3 separate regions of the Homo sapiens genome follow, and regions 2 and 3 are each linked to region 1. The links come from fine-mapping of genetic effects on gene expression. A gene starts in region 1. Each other region holds a variant in brackets. All regions are shown on one strand. Distances are from middle to middle.

What was found. PIP is the estimated chance that this variant, and not a neighbour inherited with it, causes the effect. A credible set is the group of variants that fine-mapping cannot tell apart.
Region 2: its variant is the best candidate, but not a certain one, in a credible set for the expression of WWC1 in T cells (TOPMed, PIP 0.53).
Region 3: its variant is the best candidate, but not a certain one, in a credible set for the expression of WWC1 in skin (TwinsUK, PIP 0.82).

Annotation. Positions count from the first base shown.
Region 1 is chr5:168,289,373-168,295,606 of GRCh38, forward strand. WWC1 (WW and C2 domain containing 1) reads left to right here and starts at 2,273. Exons shown (of 23, transcript NM_015238.3): 1 at 2,273-2,899. The coding sequence starts at 2,781. RefSeq lists an enhancer at 822-901 and silencers at 2,046-2,565, 2,666-3,085.
Region 2 is chr5:168,379,933-168,386,166 of GRCh38, forward strand. WWC1 (WW and C2 domain containing 1) reads left to right here. Exons shown (of 23, transcript NM_015238.3): 3 at 5,279-5,482. Among named protein-coding and RNA genes, the nearest start is that of WWC1, 91 kb to the left of the region's middle. The variant C/A (reference allele first, on the strand shown) is at 3,390.
Region 3 is chr5:168,361,078-168,367,311 of GRCh38, forward strand. The region is part of intron 1 of WWC1 (WW and C2 domain containing 1); the gene reads left to right. Among named protein-coding and RNA genes, the nearest start is that of WWC1, 73 kb to the left of the region's middle. RefSeq lists an enhancer at 4,042-4,575. The variant C/G (reference allele first, on the strand shown) is at 2,435.

The DNA.
Region 1 (6,234 bases):
AAAAAGAAAGAAAGTCTCCAATCTGGGTGACAGAGCGAGACTCCGTCTCAAAAATAAAAAGAAAGAAAGAAAGAAAGTCAGCCAGGCAAGGTGGCTCATGTCTGTAAGCCCAGCACTTTGGGAGGCTGAGGTGGGCGGATCACCTGAGGTCAGGAGTTCGAGACCAGCCTGGCCAATATGGTGAAACTCCAGCTCTACTGAAAAATACAAAAATTAGCTGGGCGTGGTGGCGCAGGCCTGTAATCCCAGCTACTCTGGAAGCTGAGGCAGGAGAATTGCTTGAATCTGGGAGGCAGAGGTTGTAGTGAGCCGAGATCATGCCACTGCACTCCAGCCTGGGGGATGGGGGGAGACTCCATCTCAAAAAAAGAAAAAAAGAAAGTATAGGTTAATAACTGAGAACACTGCACTAGAGTCAGACCTAGTCTGTCTTATGAGCTCTGTATCCCAGGCCAACAACAAAGCATCTTGGAGCCTCATCTGTAAAATGGGTATAATAAATAGACTTTCCTATGCCAGAGGGTTGTTATGAAGATTGAGATCATGTATTCAAAGAACCTAGCACCAGGTTGGCTTTGCTTTGGGGCTACTGCTCTAATCAATAGTGGGTTTTTATGTAGTAAAGGCTTGACCCAAACAGAGGAAGTGTAGAGGGCTGTGGGAATTCCCCCATAAAGGAATGGGGAATTCCAACTTTTGGGTGTTGAGGGCCAGTCTGAGGCTGGTGTCCCTGGACTCTGGTGCCTGGTATTTATGGAATGAAGGAGGGCCAAGCACTGAGCCCCGAGGCCTGGCCTCAGGGAAGGAATTAACTATGAAGAAGGCATTTGGAGGCGAGGCTCACTCTGGTGGGTCTTTTCTGTCAAGAGGAGATGAGACCACAAACATGATTCCCTCTCTGGCTCAGCAACACCCTGGTCCATACAGCACAGGGTGCTGGTTCTTCTGGAAGACCGTGGGGCTCAGGCAAGAGAAGACACCCAACTGGGCTTCATTCGACCAGTCCAGCTTCCTGCCATATGCCGAGGGCAAAAAAGGGTTAAATTCCCACTCAGTACACAGATGTAAGAGGAGATGGGGAAGTGAACAGCCAGTTGATCATTCACTCAATCATGCTAGCTTGCTTTTTGTATTTAATGCTACATTTTAAATTTATTTATTTATTTATTTGAGACAGAGTCTCGCTTTGTTGCCCAGGCTGGAGTGCAGTGGTGCGATCTTGGCTCACTGCAACCTCCACCTCCCAGGTTGAAGTGATTCTCATGCCTCAGCCTCCCGAGTAGCTGGGACTACGGGCGTGCACCACCACGCCCAGCTAATTTATTATTATTATTTTTTAGTAGAGATGGGGTTCACTATGTTGGCCAGGCTGGTCTGAAATCCTGACCTCAGGTAATCTGTCTGCCTCACCCTCCCAAAGTGCTGGGATTACAGGCGTGAGCCACCGCACCCACTAATTCTACATTTTTAATTTCTCAAGAAACATTGTGTCTCTGATTGTTTTATTCTCTTGAACATTTTTCAAGATGGAATTTTGCTTTGCTTACTTTCTTCTTTTTCATAGCCCCACTTCTCCCAAATCCATAACACACCTACCTCAAAGTATCACAGGAAAGAAAGCCTGTGAAGCTGCTAGCCACAGCCTGTCACAAGTAAGTCCTCAATTTAGCTAACAATAACAATGGCATTACTATTACTTTTACAAAGTGTTTTCCCTGACACCCTCTGGAAGTCCTCCCAGGAAAGCGGATCCACAGCGCTCCTAATTTTAGGGACCCTGAGGGGAGCCAGCTACATTTCCAAATGGTGGGGAAGGGTGGAGGGTGGGCGAAACGTCGTAGGGAGAGTTGAATAGAAGGAGACAGATGGTGCCTGTGTTGGGGGAAGGGACCAGAGATCCTGGAAAACTTATGTTTCCCAATTCGCAAGAATGTTTCCATTTAACCACTTCTTGCCTGACTCCTGATTCTACACCACAGAAAAGCAGGGAGTTTTTAAGATTTGGGGCCACCTGTGCCGAGAGCCTGGCTACTCCGGGTGGAGAGAGACAGGAGCGTTTTAAGTACAGGCAGAGCGGTTTTTGGCCCAGCCCCCTAGGTCTGGGACGCAGGTGAGGGGCGGTCTCTCCTTCCCCTGGCAGGGGCAGCGTAAGGGTGGCCGGCGGCTGGGACTGTCCCACGAGGGGGCGCGTCTCGGGCCCTAGGACCCGCCCTCGAGGCGCTGCGCGCGGGGAGGGGACCCGGGAACCCAGGCGCCCGGCGCTCCGCCTCCCGTTTCCGGGGCAGCGCGGTTACCTGCACCGCCCGAGCCGCACCTGGCGGAGGCAGAAGTCACAAACCCGGCGAGCTCAGAGCGGTGGAGCGGAGAGGAGGGACGGCACCCGGCTGCAGGGAGGAGGGAGGCGGCAGCGGCAGCGGCGGCGTGGAGGGCGCAGCGCGCCGCGCGGCGGAGGAGGGCAGACGGCGGCGGCGGCGGCGCTCGGCTCGCTCTGCCCGGCCGGCTGGGCGCGCACCCGGGCTCGCACCGCGCCGCTGCGGACGCACATGGCAGCGTGAGAGGCCGGCGGCGGGAGGAGCGGGCGGCGCCGGGTCGGGGCTGCAGGGCCGCATGGACAGCGGCGCCACCCCGGCCGGCCCCTACTAGGGCCCCCCATCTGCGGGCGCCACCCCCCGGATCATGGTGCCTCGGCGGCCGCCCGGGCTAAGAGCGGCCGGCTGGAGCCGCTGAGCCCCCGCTGCGGCCGGGAGCTGCATGGGGGAGCGCCGGCAGCGCTTGGGAAGATGCCCCGGCCGGAGCTGCCCCTGCCGGAGGGCTGGGAGGAGGCGCGCGACTTCGACGGCAAGGTCTACTACATAGACCACACGAACCGCACCACCAGCTGGATCGACCCGCGGGACAGGTAGGACCCTGGAACCCTCCTCCGTGCCCCCACACCCCCGCCTGGGCCCCCACCTGCCCCTGGAGCCGCCGGCCGGGACTGGGAGGGGGCAGGGGAGCTCTGCGTGCCTCTTGAGCTCTCTTCAGTTCGCCACCCCCTGCTCCCCCCAACCTTCTGGAGCGCTGCTCCCGCCTCAGTGGGCCACCGAGAGGAGGCGCCTGCCGGGGAGCTGGCCCAGGCTGCCCCACCGCCATCCCCAGTTGGAGGACTTAGGCCCCAGCCGGCACCTGCCCGGAGTTTTGACCTTAAGCTCTAGCCCCGCCCGCCCCCTTTAGGAAGAGAGGTCGGGCGGGGGCGGGGGTTGGGGGAGCGACCTAGCCGGGTGAAGCCGGGTCTTCCCGGGGAGGCTTCCACCCAGCGTGGGGGGTGGGCGGATGGGGATGGGGAAGTGTCCGGTTAGAGGGGGTGGTCAAGACCCCAGGATTCCGTGGGAGACCACTGGAGAGAGGGCACTCGGCGCAGAGGAAGGCAACCTGAGGTGTGCTTTTTGACAGGTGCCTTGGAAGCTGCTGAGAACAGCACAGGGGCAGCCAGGGGGCCCTGGAACCCGAGGGTGGGGAGGAAGTGAAGAAGCGGGGGAGGGCAGATGAGGGAGACTGGTTATCCAGGAATCTGGCAGCAACTTGGAAGCTGTTAGGATGGAGATGGAGGTGAGAGGCCTCCCGGAAAGCCTTGCCCCTCGCCTCTTTCTCCTCTCTTTCTTCCCTGATCGGGGAAGGGGGCGGCGAGGCTCCTCAGCCCTGCACCAGCGGGACCTGACCTTGGTGGGTACCAGGCCGCTGTAGGTTGAGATAATGTGCAGAGGCAGATGGAGCCTGAGATAGCTCGGTGTGGCTCTTACCTCTCCAGACTTTCTCCTGGTTGTTTGGCATTTCTTTGCTCACATGCTGCACACACACACATACATTCACCCTCTCCATGTATGTCCTAGAGTCCCCGGACCACGATGTTGTTGACACGGTCTGTGGGCAGAGTGTCTTGGGGAATGCGGACTTTAAACCTTGTCTGTGACCTTGGGGGTCAGGTCCCTGTAAAGCAACCAAGGTGAATTTCTTGGACTCTTCATCTTGTGTGGTGGGGGTGGAGGTGTCCCAGAAGTGTATGTAGCAAGATGTGGGTCAAAAAAAGAATATAAGCGGAAAGAAAATGAGAGTTGAGATTCTCGGTAGTTTCTGGGAGCACTTACTTTCATTCATTCATTCATTCGTTCATTCAGCGCTTCCTGGATGCCTCCTCTACACTCAGCACCATGCTGAATGTCTCATGAATGTAATCTGGAAGGTAAATATTTAGTGCTAGAGAGCATCTCTTAGGCAAGCTGCTTCAACCTCTGAGCCTCAGTTTCCCTGTTTGTCAGATGGGGGAGCCCACCATTTCCCTGAATTTAAAAAGTTTGCTTGGAAGGGAATATTGGGATGCTTAAAACTTGGAAGGGACGTACATCAGCGCCCAACTCCCATTTGAAACATAAGAGAAAATTTGAAGCCCAGAGGTGTGATTTGCTCAAGTATTTTGATTTTTCTGCCATTCTGCGTACCAGTTCTTCACCAGCTCTGAAGTTCTAACCTGCAAACTTGTCACCCTGACACACTGCTTCCCCACCCTTACTCGGGTCAGTTGCCAGCTCTGCTACTGTGTTGGTGAACTTGGCAGCACCTTTTCTCTTGTCCTTTTCTCAGAACAGACACAAGTTCAAACATATGTGACCTGCCCCAATTTAGGTCCCTGTAGTTTACGGAGGCCTGTGTGCTGTTAGCAGGTGGACGTCCTGTTGGAGGGAAAGGACCGCCCCTGCCAACACTGATAATCATGCATCTGGGGACTTCTAATACAGCAATAGGAGGCCCCTCTCAACAGTAATTCTTTACCCTTGGAAAAGGGTAAGTAAGTAGCTTCTATGAAGAACTGATTGGCTGGAGCACAATCTCCCAAATTTTAGTGTTACATGGACCACCTCCATGATTTTTTTTTGCTATATCCACCTGTGCTATTGCTTACTTACTCCTTGACTTTAGATCAACTCACTTTAAAAATATGTGTACCATTTTCACAAATGGGAAACTAGTTATATCTATTGTCATACAGGGGAAACAAAAAAGATAGGCAAACAAAAAAAACAAAAAACCAGGGTTAGTATATTTTAGCTAGGTACTGTGGCCAGCCTAAGGCCACAGCACCTCACCTGCCCAGCCTTTGTTTTTAAGCAGATTGGCAAGCCATGGAGAGGCGGCAGAAACATAGTGGCACTTAGGTGAGCAGCTCACCTTCTTCATCTTGTGTCATTGGTTTTTTTGTTTGCTTTTGGTTTTTTTGTTTATTTGTTTTTGTTTTTTGGAGACAGAGTCTCGCTCTGTCGCCCAGGCTGGAGTCCAGTGGTGCGATCTTGGCTCACTGCAAGTCTGCCTCCTGGGTTCAAGCGATTCTCCTGCCTCAACCTCCCGAGTAGCTGGGACTACAGGTGCACGCCACCACATCCAGCCAATTTTTTGTATTTTAGTAGAGATGGGGTTTCACTGTGTTGCCCAGGCTAGTCTTGAACTCCTGAGCTCAGGCAATCCGCCCACCTCAGCCTCCCAAAGTGCTAGGATTACAGGCGTGAGCCACCACGCTTGGCCTTGGGTCACTGGTTTATAAACTTCATCTCTGTACCTCCTTGTCATCCCACCTGGACTGGGGTGGTATTGGGCCCCTGAACTTGGGGTCCTGAGGGGGTCTCATGTCAACTCTGGGGGTCACTATTGTGGTCCAGCTTTGTATGTTTTGGAAAAGTGCTAATTGGAGGATAGCCACTTGTGGTTTTCTGGAATTTCCCTCCGGCATACCCCATTTTTGCCTTTTAGTTCTGTCTGTGTGGCCTTGGGCAAATCACTTGACCTCTCTGAGGTTTGAGTGCTTGAGAAGTGGGTTGGTTAGATGGTCTTCAAGGGCCTGCCAGCTCTTAAATATTATTTCAAACCCTTCTGCCGCTCTTACCTCTCCAGACTCCATGAGAGGAGAAGGGGGAACAGGGATGGGCTATGAGAAAAAGGAAGAAGAAATTTAACAAAGCTGAAAAGAGCCAAACTTATTCCGGGGGGTGGTGGGTTGGGGAGAAAAAATTCTGCCAAGGTAGTTATATCCCTGCAATTAATTAATGCTGTGAGACAAAAAATTGCACTAAAAATTTCTACTCCGTGTGTGTGTGTGTGTGTGTGTGTGTGTGTGTGTGTTTATTTGCCTTGGATTTTTCCTTACCTGAATCATGGAGATGCCCACCCATTCCCCTGAATTTAAAAGAAGTAAGTCAAATGGTCCTT
Region 2 (6,234 bases), 91 kb after region 1:
GATTTTATGATAGGCAAAGATTTTTTTGGACAAGTCATAAAAAGCACTAACCAGAAAAGAAAAATTAATAAATTTGGTTTCATCAAATTAAAATCTTTGTTCCTCAAAAGACATTATTAAGAAACTGAAAAGACAAGCCACAGATAAGGAGACAATATTGCAATACATATCTCTAACAAAGAACCATATTCCAAGTATGTAAAGACGTCCTACAACTTAACAGTAAGAAGCAGCTGGCACAGTCGCTCATGCCTGTAATCCCAGCACTTCAGGGTGCTGAGGTGGAGGGTCACTTGAGCCCGGGAGTTCACGACCAGCCATAGCAAAACATAAGGCAGCACAGGGCAACACAGTGAGACCTCATCTCTACAAAAATAAAAATACAGAATCAGCTGGGGCATGGTGGTACATGCCAAGTAGTCCCAGCTACTTGGGAGCCTGAGGCTGGAGGATCACTTTAGCCCAGGAGTTGAAGACCAGCCTGGACAGCATAGTGAGACCCCCATCTCAAAAAAATAAAAAAATAAAATTCCAACGAGGTATCATTACATACCCACTATAATGACTAAAATGAGGAAAAAAATAACAATACCAACTGCTAGCAAGGATGTGGAAGAACTAGAATTCTGATACACTGCTGGTGAGAATGTAAAATGGTACAACCAGTTTGGAAAAGTTTGCCAGTTTCTTATGAAATTCGACATATACTTGCGAAGTATAATCCAGCAATTCTACCCCTGGTATTTTTGTCCAAGAGAAGTGAAAACATGCCCACACGAAGACTTAGAGTATTCATCATAATAATCCCTAACTGGAAGCAAACTAACAATTTATCACAAAGACAATGTGATGTATTCATACAATAGAATATTATTCAGCAATAATAAGAAATGTACAACAGATACAGCAATAGGAATGAGTCTCAAAAACCTTCTGCTTAGTGAAAGAACCAAGGCCCTAAGAGCAAATAACTGTGTGAGTCCATGCATGTGAAGTTCTAAAACAGGCAAACTGGGAGAGGGGGTGAGTAGAGGAAATTGCCTGGGAGCGTCCAGGGGATCATTGGGGTAAAGGAAATACTCTCAGAAATGTAACAAATTGATGCCCACTTCACACTGTAGATCAATTCAGTGGAAATCTCTCGGGTGATTCCAGTGTGCAACCAGTTTGAGAACCAGTTCTGGTGTGAGTTTGTGTGTTGTTTTTGTCTGTTCGTGCACCCATCTATTCTTATTGGTTTACAAAAGAGACCATGAGCCACAAAAAATGGTCGCCAAGCCACCTGGCTTGGCCAGACCTTCAGGTAAGGGTCTCATATACCTTTATAGTTTTACAGAGCAGTGCTGAGGTCTAAGGCCAAAGGGAAGGTGCCCGTTCCAGATGAAATCCAGAACACTGTGGGAGGGTCCACCTAGGTGTCGCTTAGGGAACTGGACACGGGCCCAGCATTTCAACCAGCACCTGGGCAGGCGATTCCACCTGGAGCCCGCATCGCACCTGCCAGCCTCAGTGACCAATCGGCCCATGTGTTTGTCATCTCTTAAACACCGGTTCTCACCTTGGGTGGCACACTGGAATTATTTGGGGAGCTTTGTAAATCATCATTGCTTTATTCTCACTCCCAGAGATTGGGATTTGATTGATCTGGAGTAGGATTGAAATTTTTAAAAAATTCTCCCGGGTGATTCTAATGTTCAACCAGGGGCTCTCAGCTATATCTGCACCAGAGTCACCCAGAGAAGCTTTAAAAACTGTCAATACCTGAGCCCCACTCCTGGAAATTCTAATTTAAGTGTTCTTCGGGGGGTGGGGTGGGGTTCAGGCTTTTTTTTTTTTTTTGAAGCTTCTCTGCTAATTCTAATATGCAGCAAAGACCCAGAATCACTGGATGAGGCACTGACTTTTAAAAAGAAAAAAAAAAAAGCAATTTCACTGAGAATGTGGGGGGAGGCACTCATGTATGCTGTTTTTGAGAACAGAAATTACCTGCCTTTGGAAGGTAATTTGGTAATATCTATTAAAATTGTAAGTGTGTGTACCCTCTGATCTAGTAGTTTCTCTTTAAGAAACCTATCCCACAGAATTAATAGCACAAATTCATAGACATATGTTTTTAAGAACCCTTACTGCAGCATTGAATGTAGTAGCAAAAGAACTGAAAACAATTCAAATATTTCCCATCGAGGTCTGGTTAAATAAACCCAAATACCATAGCGTGGAACACTGTACAGGTGTTTAAAAGATGGTGCACCTACAGGCAAAAATGAGCATGCTATATCATTTGGAGATGAAAACAAGTCACAGACCAATATAAATGGCATGGTCCATGTTGCATTAAAGTAACCTTGTATATATAGGCGTGTATGTGTAAACAAAAATTCATGTATAATCAGAAGGCAGTATCTGTGTGAGACTCAACAACAGTTACCTCTGGGCAATGGGATTGGAGAGATGGAAACTCTCTTATTTCACAAACTTGTCATGGTGGAATTGTGGGATTTTTCTTTTTTGTACTTTTCATTATTTTGTGGTGAAAAATCAGATCTTCTAAAAGTTGCAAACTTTAAGAAACATTGCCAGCCTGCTCAAGATAGGCTGAGCTGCTTTTTTCTGTGGGCTGTGCCAGCTGGAGGTGTAGGGCAGATCCCTCAGGGGGACCCACGATTCCTGAACGCCAAGGGAATCCACAGCTGCTGATGGGAGATGGGAACCCACAGCAGCTGTTCTGTAGCCCAGTTTTACAAATTCCATCTCCGCCTTGTTTTTTTGTTTTGTCTTTGTATTATTTTTGCATTTGTTCCTGCCTCTTGTTTGGTTTGAAGGGATGGAAAGCTTTCCTCATGAGGGGCAGTTTTTTGTAGCCACTGTAAGCAGTCTTCAGACCTTACTTTTTTTCTCAGAAAAAGGAGGAGGAAAAGCTTGAAGAATTGCTATTCACAGACGATTCAAAAATTGGTCCTAGGCTGGGCACAGTGCCTCACGCCTGTAATCCCACCACTTTGGGAGGCCGAGGCAGGTAGGTCACCTGAGGTCAGGAGTTCAAGACTAGCCTGGTTAACATGGTAAAACCCTGTCTCTACTAAAAATACAAAAATTAGCTGGGCGTAGTGGCAGGCGCCTGTAATCCCAGCTACTTGGGAGGCTGAGGCAGGGATAATTACTGGAACCCAGGAGGCAGAGGTTGCAGTGAGCCAAGATCACGCCACTGCACTCCAGCCTGGGAGACAGAGCAAGACTCCATCTCAAAAACAAAAAAAAAAAAAGAAAAGAAAAAAGAAAAAGAAAACAACAACAATGAAAACTGATCCTAGGCAATAGTTTGGGTTTTACTTTCACTATCATTTGTTTCCTTTACCTGGCACAAGTGCTTTAGTTTCCTGTTTCCTGGG[C/A]AGTAGTGATGCAGGGTTCATTACCCCCTTTAAGAGATACAAAAGTAGATTCAGAGACGTTAAACAGCCTTTCTGTTGTAACACAGCGATTATTGGCAGGAATGAGAACTTGGCCCTGCTGCTTCTTTGATCTTTATTTCACTGGAGATGCTCATTGGACCTGTTTAGGAGGAATGAGAGCTAAAGGGCCTAGATTGGGAGGCATAAACTCCAGTGTTCCCCGGGCTAGGCATATGACATAAATGAATGAAGCAGACCAGGTTTTGACAGATGGGGTGCTGGGATTTCTGACCAGTTGTGAACCCAAGGTGGCCAGAACTTCTGAATGATCAAGAAAAGCCATAAAACAGGATTTTAATGAAGATATCTCTCCATTTTTTACATACCAGTAATCAATTCAGAAGCAATACCTATCTGGAGGCTGGATTCACCACATTGCCCTGATTTTACAATTTCTGGCTTGTTGATCACCCCTAACACCACCCAACAACTGGGGGTGACTGAGGAGTTAATAGTCCATGGGCATTGATTCTTTGACATTATTTTAACCTCTTCCATATCTCGTCAGCTGCTTTTTTTTCAGATCATTAGTGTATATGTTTTTTGTACACATAATTTTGTAAAAAATAAAATATCCTAAAATATCCTGCCACCTAGTTGGTTGTTGATATTTTCCTATTTTCTCATCTTTTTGAGAATGTACATATTGATTTTGATAGATAGTTATTTATTCGGTTTTATGACCTGCATATTATAAGTACCTTTCCATGTTATTAATTTTTCTTCAAAGGTGTTATCTTTATAATAGTGCATTCTGTGAATATAGCATACATATTTGAACACTTATTTCTGTGTGACTTTGAGCAAGTTACTTAACCTCTCTACGTCTCAGTTTTCTCATTGGTATAATGGGGATAGTAATAGAATCTATAAGGTTCGTGTAAGGATTTAAGAAGTGAACATATGTAAAGTTCTTAGAACAGCACTTATCATAGAATCAATGACATGTGCTTGCTACTTCATAATATATTATTATTATGGTTTTGTACAAATATATGACTGAATTTAAATTACTTTTTATAATGAATTACTATAGGGAGAATTATTGGTCAAAGGGTATTAACATTTTAAGGCTCTTAATTTGCATTGTCAGATAGTCTTCTAGTAAGGCTGTTCTAATTCACATTTCCAGCTGGCTATAGGGTACCTATTTCTCCACATCCTCTGAGACATTAGTTATTTTTCTTTCCTTTAGTCTTCACCAAAGGAGATTACCTTGAGCATCTCTAATGTCCTTGAGCCTCTCTGTCTAGATTAGTACTCAAACCTGATCCTTATTCAGGCCGTTCTCAGAGATTGACATTGGGTTTGGAAATTGATCCTGGTTTATTCTTTTTTTTTTTTTTTTTTTTTTCAGACAGAGTCTCATTATGTCATCCAGGCTGGAGTGCAGTGGCACGATCTCAGCTTGCTGCAACCTCCCCCTCCTGGGTTCAAGCAATTCCCCTGCCTTAGCCTCCCAAGTAGCTGGGATTACAGGTGCCTGCCACCATACTGGCTAATTTTTGTATTTTTAGTAGAGACGGAGTTTTACCATGTTGGCCAGGCTGGTCTCAAGCTCCTTGACCTCAAGTGATCCACCTGCCTCAGCCTCCCAATGTGCTGGGATTACAGGCGTGAGCCACCACACCCAACCCCCTGGCTTATTATTTGTTTGACTACTCCAAATGGAGAATCACTGTCATTTAGTAAATGAGTTTGCCCCACTTACATTTATTGTGATTTGTCTATGCATTTTGCTTTTTGTTTTCTGCTAGTGGATACCACAGGCCACCAGCCCAACAGATATTTGTGAGATGCTGACCTAGAATCTCTGGGGTCTGTTCCAGAAACCACTCAGATTGAGGATCCTCGAGTACAATGGCGGCGGGAGCAGGAACATATGCTGAAGGATTACCTGGTGGTGGCCCAGGAGGCTCTGAGTGCACAAAAGGAGATCTACCAGGTGAAGCAGCAGCGCCTGGAGCTTGCACAGCAGGAGTACCAGCAACTGCATGCCGTCTGGGAGCATAAGCTGGGCTCCCAGGTCAGCTGTGAGTACCTCCCACTACCACCACCCCCACCGACACCAACAGAGAATGGCCACACTGAGTTCTGCCAATATTGCTTCTCAAGTCTGCCCATTTCTCTTCACCTCTACTCTTTGTCCAAACCACCATCTTGTTTACTGCTCTTCCTGCTCCTACCTGTGCCTTGCAGTGATTCATTTGCCATTTGCGTTTCATTTTATTTCATTTGTAATCATCTCAGAATGCCAGTCGGATTACATATCTCCTCATTTAAAAGCTTTCAGGGACTAGGGGAATTGGGAATGGGGAATTCTTAGTTAACGAGTACAGAGTTTCAGTTTGGGAAGAAGAAAATTTCTAGAGGTGGATGGTAGTATGTTCACAACAGTGTAAATGTACTTAATGCTACTGAACAATTCACTTAATAAATAGTTAAAATGGTAAATTTTATGTTGAATATATTTACCGCAATTTCAAAACAATCAAATGCCCTTCAGTGGCTTCCCCTCACTCTTTCCATGGCCTATACAGCCCTCCGTGGTCAGGCCCCTGCCAGCCACTCTTGCCTCATCTCATGCCCTCCTCACTAGGCTCCAGATGCACTGAGCCCCCAGCCCCCCTTTCTGTTTCCCTACCCCACCCTGTAATTTTCCACCTCAGTGCCTTAGTATGTGCCGGTCCCCTTCCTAGAATGCTTTGTCACGCATCCATTTGCAAGGCTAAGTCCTTCTCAGTCTTCCAGTCTCATCCTTCAGGTCATCACCTCTGAGAGGCCT
Region 3 (6,234 bases), 72 kb after region 1:
TTGTCCGTGCATGAATGAATGCAAGAACCTGGGAAGCAGGTTTTCTTGTCTGCTCTATACCTGCAGGAAAACTGAGGCTCAGACCTGGGGGAAGGAATGGACTGAGATTACACAGCTAGGAAGGATGGAACTGGGAGTCCTCTCTGGTTCTGTTGGCTTTTTCTTTAGGGCACAGAGCTTCCATAGCCTAACTCATAATTCAGGAATGAGGATGAAGCTGGGGTTGAGCAGGGTGAGGAGCAAAAAGATATTCCAGGGTCTTCATTCTACTGTGGTGTGGGGCTTTTAGGAAATTACCTTCCAAGTAGGTAATGAGAAAAATGAAGAGCCCACCTCCCAACCTCGTCTCTCCATGAATGGGAGCTTCATAGTTCTCCATCTTGGTTCCTACCCAATGATCAGTCTCATTCGGTATAATAGGGTTAGTTAGCCTGGGAAAATGCTATCAATACCTATTTCTTGGAGGCTGTTCAGATGCTTATTGAATTTCAAATGGAGCCAAGCCCAGCACCAAGCTGATTTGATCTCCTGGCATTATGTGATGCAGGGCTGGAGTTGGTCCCCAGGTCCCCTGGGTCCTTGGGTGGCTCCAGGCAAGTCTTTTATCTCTGTCCCTCAGTTTCCTCATTGGTAAAGAAAGGGAGTTGTTTTGTTGGGTTTCTTTTAATTTTAACATTCTCTACGTTGGGGGCCTCATTTGGGCAGCAGTGTGAAAAATAAATCACTGGGTGCGGTGGCTCACGCCTGTAATCCCAGCACTTTGGGAGGCTGAAGTAGGTGGATCACATGAGGTCAGGAGTTTGAGACCAGCCTGGCCAACATGGTGAAACCCCATCTCTACTAAAAATAGAAAAAATTAGCCGGGCATGGTGGCAGGCGCCTGTGGTCCCAGCTACTTGGGAGGCTGAGGCAGGAGAATCGCTTGAACCCGGGAGGCAGAGGTTGCAGTGAGCCTAGACCGTGCCAATGCTCTCCAGCCTGGGCAACAAGAGTGAAACTCCATCTCAAAAGATAAATAAATAAATAAATGAAAAACGAATCACTCACATTTATCAAGCACTCACTGTGTACTCATGTGCTGTTTCATGCATTATCTCATGTAAGCTTCAAGGAGCACTGTGGGGCAGGTCTGAATGGTACCTGCCTGAAAGGGCTGTTGTGAAGGCCAGCTGAGTAAATATATAAATACATTAACTGCTTGGAACAGTTGCTGGTGCATAGTGAGTGCTCAGTATATGTGTTCTTATTTTTCCTGTTTTGCAAATGTGACAACTGAGCCACATAGAGTTTACATATCTTGTCCAAGGTCACACAGCTAGAAAATGACAGAGCCTGGATTCAAAGCCAGTGAGTCTGGCTCCAGAGCCCTCTGCTCTTAACCAAGAGGCAGGAGTGACACATTAGAAAGCAATGGGGACAAAGTGCATCCAGACAGTGCCTGTCCCCAAAGGTGTGCTAAGTCCGTTTTTAAAATATAGCACTGTAGTAGATCAACAAACATATCTTCAGGCTGAATTTGGCCCTCAGGTTGTCCGTTGGCTTTACCTACTCTAATCCATGATTTGGTTCTCAGAACTGAAATCTTAAACCCAACAGGCAGCACACAGAGGGGATTAGCAGCCTGGATTCACCCCATGTCAGTGAGTGGGAACAGATAAGCATAGAGACTCAAGATGGAGGTGAAGGAAGGGGATGGACCCAAAGGGCACAGGTGTGTGATCTCACCAACCCAGCAGGGCAGAGGGAAGACAGAATCCAAGATTTGGCAGTGGGGAGGTGAGCCACTGGTTTGTGGGGGCCTAGTCTGAAGGTAGGGAGGGTTTGGGGTGGAGGAACCGTCTGGAATCTCCCCTCCAGCCCTCCCTCCTCTTCTTTTTTCTATAAAAGAATTTTAGGATGGGAATAACTAGGCCAAGAAAACTTCTGGGTAAGCCAGCCCAAACAGAGTAGGGAAACAAGGAGATCTAAGGGTGGAAAAGCCAGAATTTTGAGACAGGTGTTCGGAGGGTAGAGAACAAGAGGAAGGGAAGTGTTTACGAGAAGAAGAACTTGGGAATTCCAGGTATAAATGCCTCCTCCTTCAGAGAGCAGATTTTGAGAACCAAATCCAATTCAGCTACTGTCTCCTACCTTCTCCCATTTAACTTTCTAAAAAGAGAGAGGAAGCCAGGTGTGGTGGCTCACACCTGTAATCCCAGAATTTTGGGAGGCCGAGGCAGGAGGATCACTTGAGGTCAGGAGTTTGAGACCAGACTGACAAACATGGGGAAATCCCGCCTCTACTAAAAGTACAAAAATTAGCCCGGCATGGTGGCGGGCACCTGTAGTCCCAGCTACTCAGGAGGCTGAGGCAGGAAAATCACTTGAACCCTGGGAGGTAGAGATTGCAGTGAGCTTAGATCACGCCACTGTACTCCAGCCTGGGTGACAGAGC[C/G]AGACTCTGTCTCAAAAAAAAAAAAAAAAAAAAAAAGATGGTTTAAGCAGTCCCAGCTCCTCCAGGAAGGGAGGTGATAGAATACAGTGCAAGGTTTATTAGCTGTGCAAGCCAGGACAATTATTTTGCTTCAGTTTCCCCATCATGAAAATCGGGGTATAAAACCTAACTCATCCTAACAGCCAATGTAGATTGAACCCTGAATGCCATGTGGTCAGCACAGCCCATTTTAACGCAGCGGTGACTTTGAGCACCCCCATCTTATGGATGAGGAAACAAAGCCACACAGGTTAGAGTTCATGCCCAAGGGGACAGAGCTAATGAGTGACAGTGCCTGCATTGGGACCCAGATGGCTGACTCCAGACTTGTGAGTTTTAACCACCACCGTGTATCTCTTAGGGTGAAGACTGATAATGGTGGGTGTGGTGATGGTGGTGATGATAGCTCACGTGTTAAGGATTTGAGATAAAGGGTGATGTGATTCTTCACAACGCGCAGAACTCTCTGATTATGTTTGCAACCCACATTTATCAAGGGCTTGTCTTGTGCCAGTCCCGGCACTAGATACTGTATAGGTTATCTCATTTAATCCCCACAACACCCTTATGAGAGTGGGCCTTCCTGTGTAAGTTTCACAGAGAAGAAAACTCCTCTCAAGCAGGTTACATAACCCACCTACAGTTCTGGAAGAGGTGGAGCCTGGGTTTCAGCCTCGCATCCCATTCCTGAGCCTTTGTGGGTAACATCTACCCTGCCTCCTCCTTAACCATGGAGCTGACCACAGCTCTTTCCTCCTCCCCTCCCCAGCCCTCCCTGACTACACCCCATTGCTGCATTCTCTCCCTGCCCATGGCCCGTTGGCCTTTCGCGTCTATACTGCTGACGTAGCACCTTATTAAATATCCCTGCATCCTCTAATTACCTGTGGCTCAGGCCGCGGGTAGCGTTACAGCCACATACACTCCCATGGAATGTTGTGGGGATGACTCCCTGCCTGTTTGGAGTGTGAGTCTTGTTCCCCGGCCAGACCCTCTGCCCCTGGAAGCAGAAACATGGCTTCTTCAAGCGTCTGAGCCCTCGTAGTGCCTAGCATGGGCCTGGAGTGCCATACTCACTTGATAAATGCTTGTTGCTTGGTGGATTGATTGAAATGAGGGTGGAAGGATGAGAGTGGAGGGTGAGGCAGAGAGTGTCTCTGGGTCACCCTCCAGCTCAACACAAGGGCAGTGGTCAGAGGAATAATCCAAAGTGCATACCCAGGCCCCAGAGCCGCCAAAGCTGACCTCCGCCTCCACTTCACCTGAATAGCATGGATCTCTCTGAAATGGCCCTCTTGATTTGCTTCTGGCTGGGGTGCATCTCGCCCTCTAGACTGTAAGGGCAGGGCCCTATCTGTCTCTTTCCTCTGTAGCTGGTGTTAACGAAGGCTCTGCTGTGTGTCATGTGCTCAGCTCTCCTAACAAACTTGAGAGATGGTTATTTTTATCATGCCCAGATTTGTTAGACAATGAGTAAAAGAGTCTGAACCAAACTGAATTAAAGGAAGAAGGACTTCAAACGTTGCCTTTCTTCCTGTTCATTCTGGCCTCCCCGGAGCTAAAGGTGAAGGGACTGCTTAGAAATGGTGTTCTGCAGCAGCCCCAGGTGAAGGAGCATTATCAGGAATTGTGCAACCTTAGCTATGGGAACTATGCGTGTGAAACAGCCCAGGGCGGGAAGAACCAGCCTGGCCATTGTGCCTGGGCTGGGGAGGAGAGGTTCGGCTGAAAGTTTGGACAGTTCTTGGCTTGGAGTCTGGAGGGCCCTTTAGAAAGTGATCCCGCCCAGCCAGCCCTCAGAGAGAGCAGGCCAGCATCCTGCTGGACGGTAATAAAGAGGTTACTGTGGGAAGCTGGGACTTGCTTGGGAAACACTAGGAACATGAAAGATAGGGTATGCATTCTTCAGTCCCGAGAGAATCACCACCCAGTATTAAACTTGGCAGAAGGCTTTCCTCTCCTCCTCTGAGCTGCCTCCTTAGAAAAGGCACATTGTCAGAATGCCGAATGCCCACCGTGGTCTCATGTCCTCACAGCCCGTAGGAAAGTAACTACCAGTTACCCACTGGTGGTTGCCCCTGAGAGGAGGGTAAGGGAGGCTTCCAGCCCCCGGGGTGGCTCTCCCCGACAGGTGTGCCTGTGTGCTGTTTGTAGGGTGCTCCTGGCAGAACCTACCTGTCTCCACAGCGACACATCTGGCCGTTTTTCCAGGAGGGCCTGTTGAGAAACATTCAGGAATGTTTGTGCTCCTTTAGAGATTTGTAATTAAGAAGAGGCAGAACTCGTTCTTGTCTGGCACCCTCCCTTCTTGCCCCTCCAGCATCTGGGTCATTTGATTTCACAATTGGGGTTTTCGGCAGCCCGAGTTGTGGAGGCTGGAAGCAGGGACCGACTGAACCAGGCTGGATGGTGGTGAATTGCTTCACCCGAGGGTGGGGGCTGGGAGTTCCAGGCAGGCCCCCAAGTCCTGGCCACATCTGAAAGTGGACATTTCTTCCCAGGTTGCATCCTTAGCACTTGCCCAAGGTGAAACATTTCAGGCCAGTGGAGCACCCACAGTTCCTGGGGGACGGGGGGTGGCTGGTTTAAATGGACAATTCCTCTCCTTAACTGCCAGGAAGAGTGAGTGTGTGCATGTATGTATGTGTGAGTGTGTCTGTTTAAATCTTTGTGCAGCCAAAAACACATCTCTTCATCCTGAATGACACATCTCTACACACTGAATAATTCATCTCCCTCTTGGCATTTGTTCCGGAGAGAATCTTGCTGTCCAGATTTCTTGTAAGTTGCATAGCCTTCCATAGGCACTTCCTTGTTTCCCATGGAAGAGCTCTGGGAGTCAGGATATCAGTCAGTCAGCCCTCTGGCATTTCCCCTGTGATCGCATCAAAGGGGAATGAGAATATCAAACCCAAAGTGTTTCTCTCTCCTTTGCCCTCTCCTTCTAGCTTTGGGTCCTCTTGCCTCCCTCTGCTTTATTTCTCTTGGGCACAGTGTCTGTGTTCACTGCAAGTGGAATCAGCATTGTGTCCTGGTAGGGTATCCACATGTCTGTCACATTACTGATGCTTGGAGCGAATAAATGTATTTGGCTCTGACATCTCAACGTGTAAGGCTGGAACAATCAGTGGAGTTAATGGTTTTCCAGATAGTGACACATTTTCGGGGTTTCAGTCCCGTCCTCCTAACCCCATCTCCATCCTCACACCCAGCAAGCTCAGTAAATCATTTGTATTAATGACTTTGAAACACTTTTTTTTTTTTTTTTTTTTTTTTTGAGATGGAATCTTGCTCTGGAGTGCAGTGGTGTGATCTCAGCTCACTGCAGCCTCCGCCTCCCAGGTTCAAGCGATTCTCCTGGCTCAGCCTCCCGAGTAGCTGGGATTACAAGTGCCTGCCACCATGCCCAGCTAATTTTTGTATTTTTAATAGAGATGGAGTTTCACCATGTTTGCCAGGCTGGTCTTGAACTCCTGACCTCGGGTGATCCACCCGCCTCAGCCTCCCAAATGCTGAGATTACAGGTGTGAGCCACTGCACCCAGCCGACTTTGAAACACTTAATTGCCTCTTTATTAAGCAGCCATGGATTTCCCAGGTCTATTGAATATCCTTGCACCAACACATAGATAACTGAAGGTCCCAAATATGCTAAAGCCCCCATGCCTTTTGCCTGCTTCAGATGTCCCTCTTGTCTCATTTCACCTTCTGTATCTCTAGCACAGCTTGCTCTGTGTTCCAGATTGTTCTGAGACTCACCCT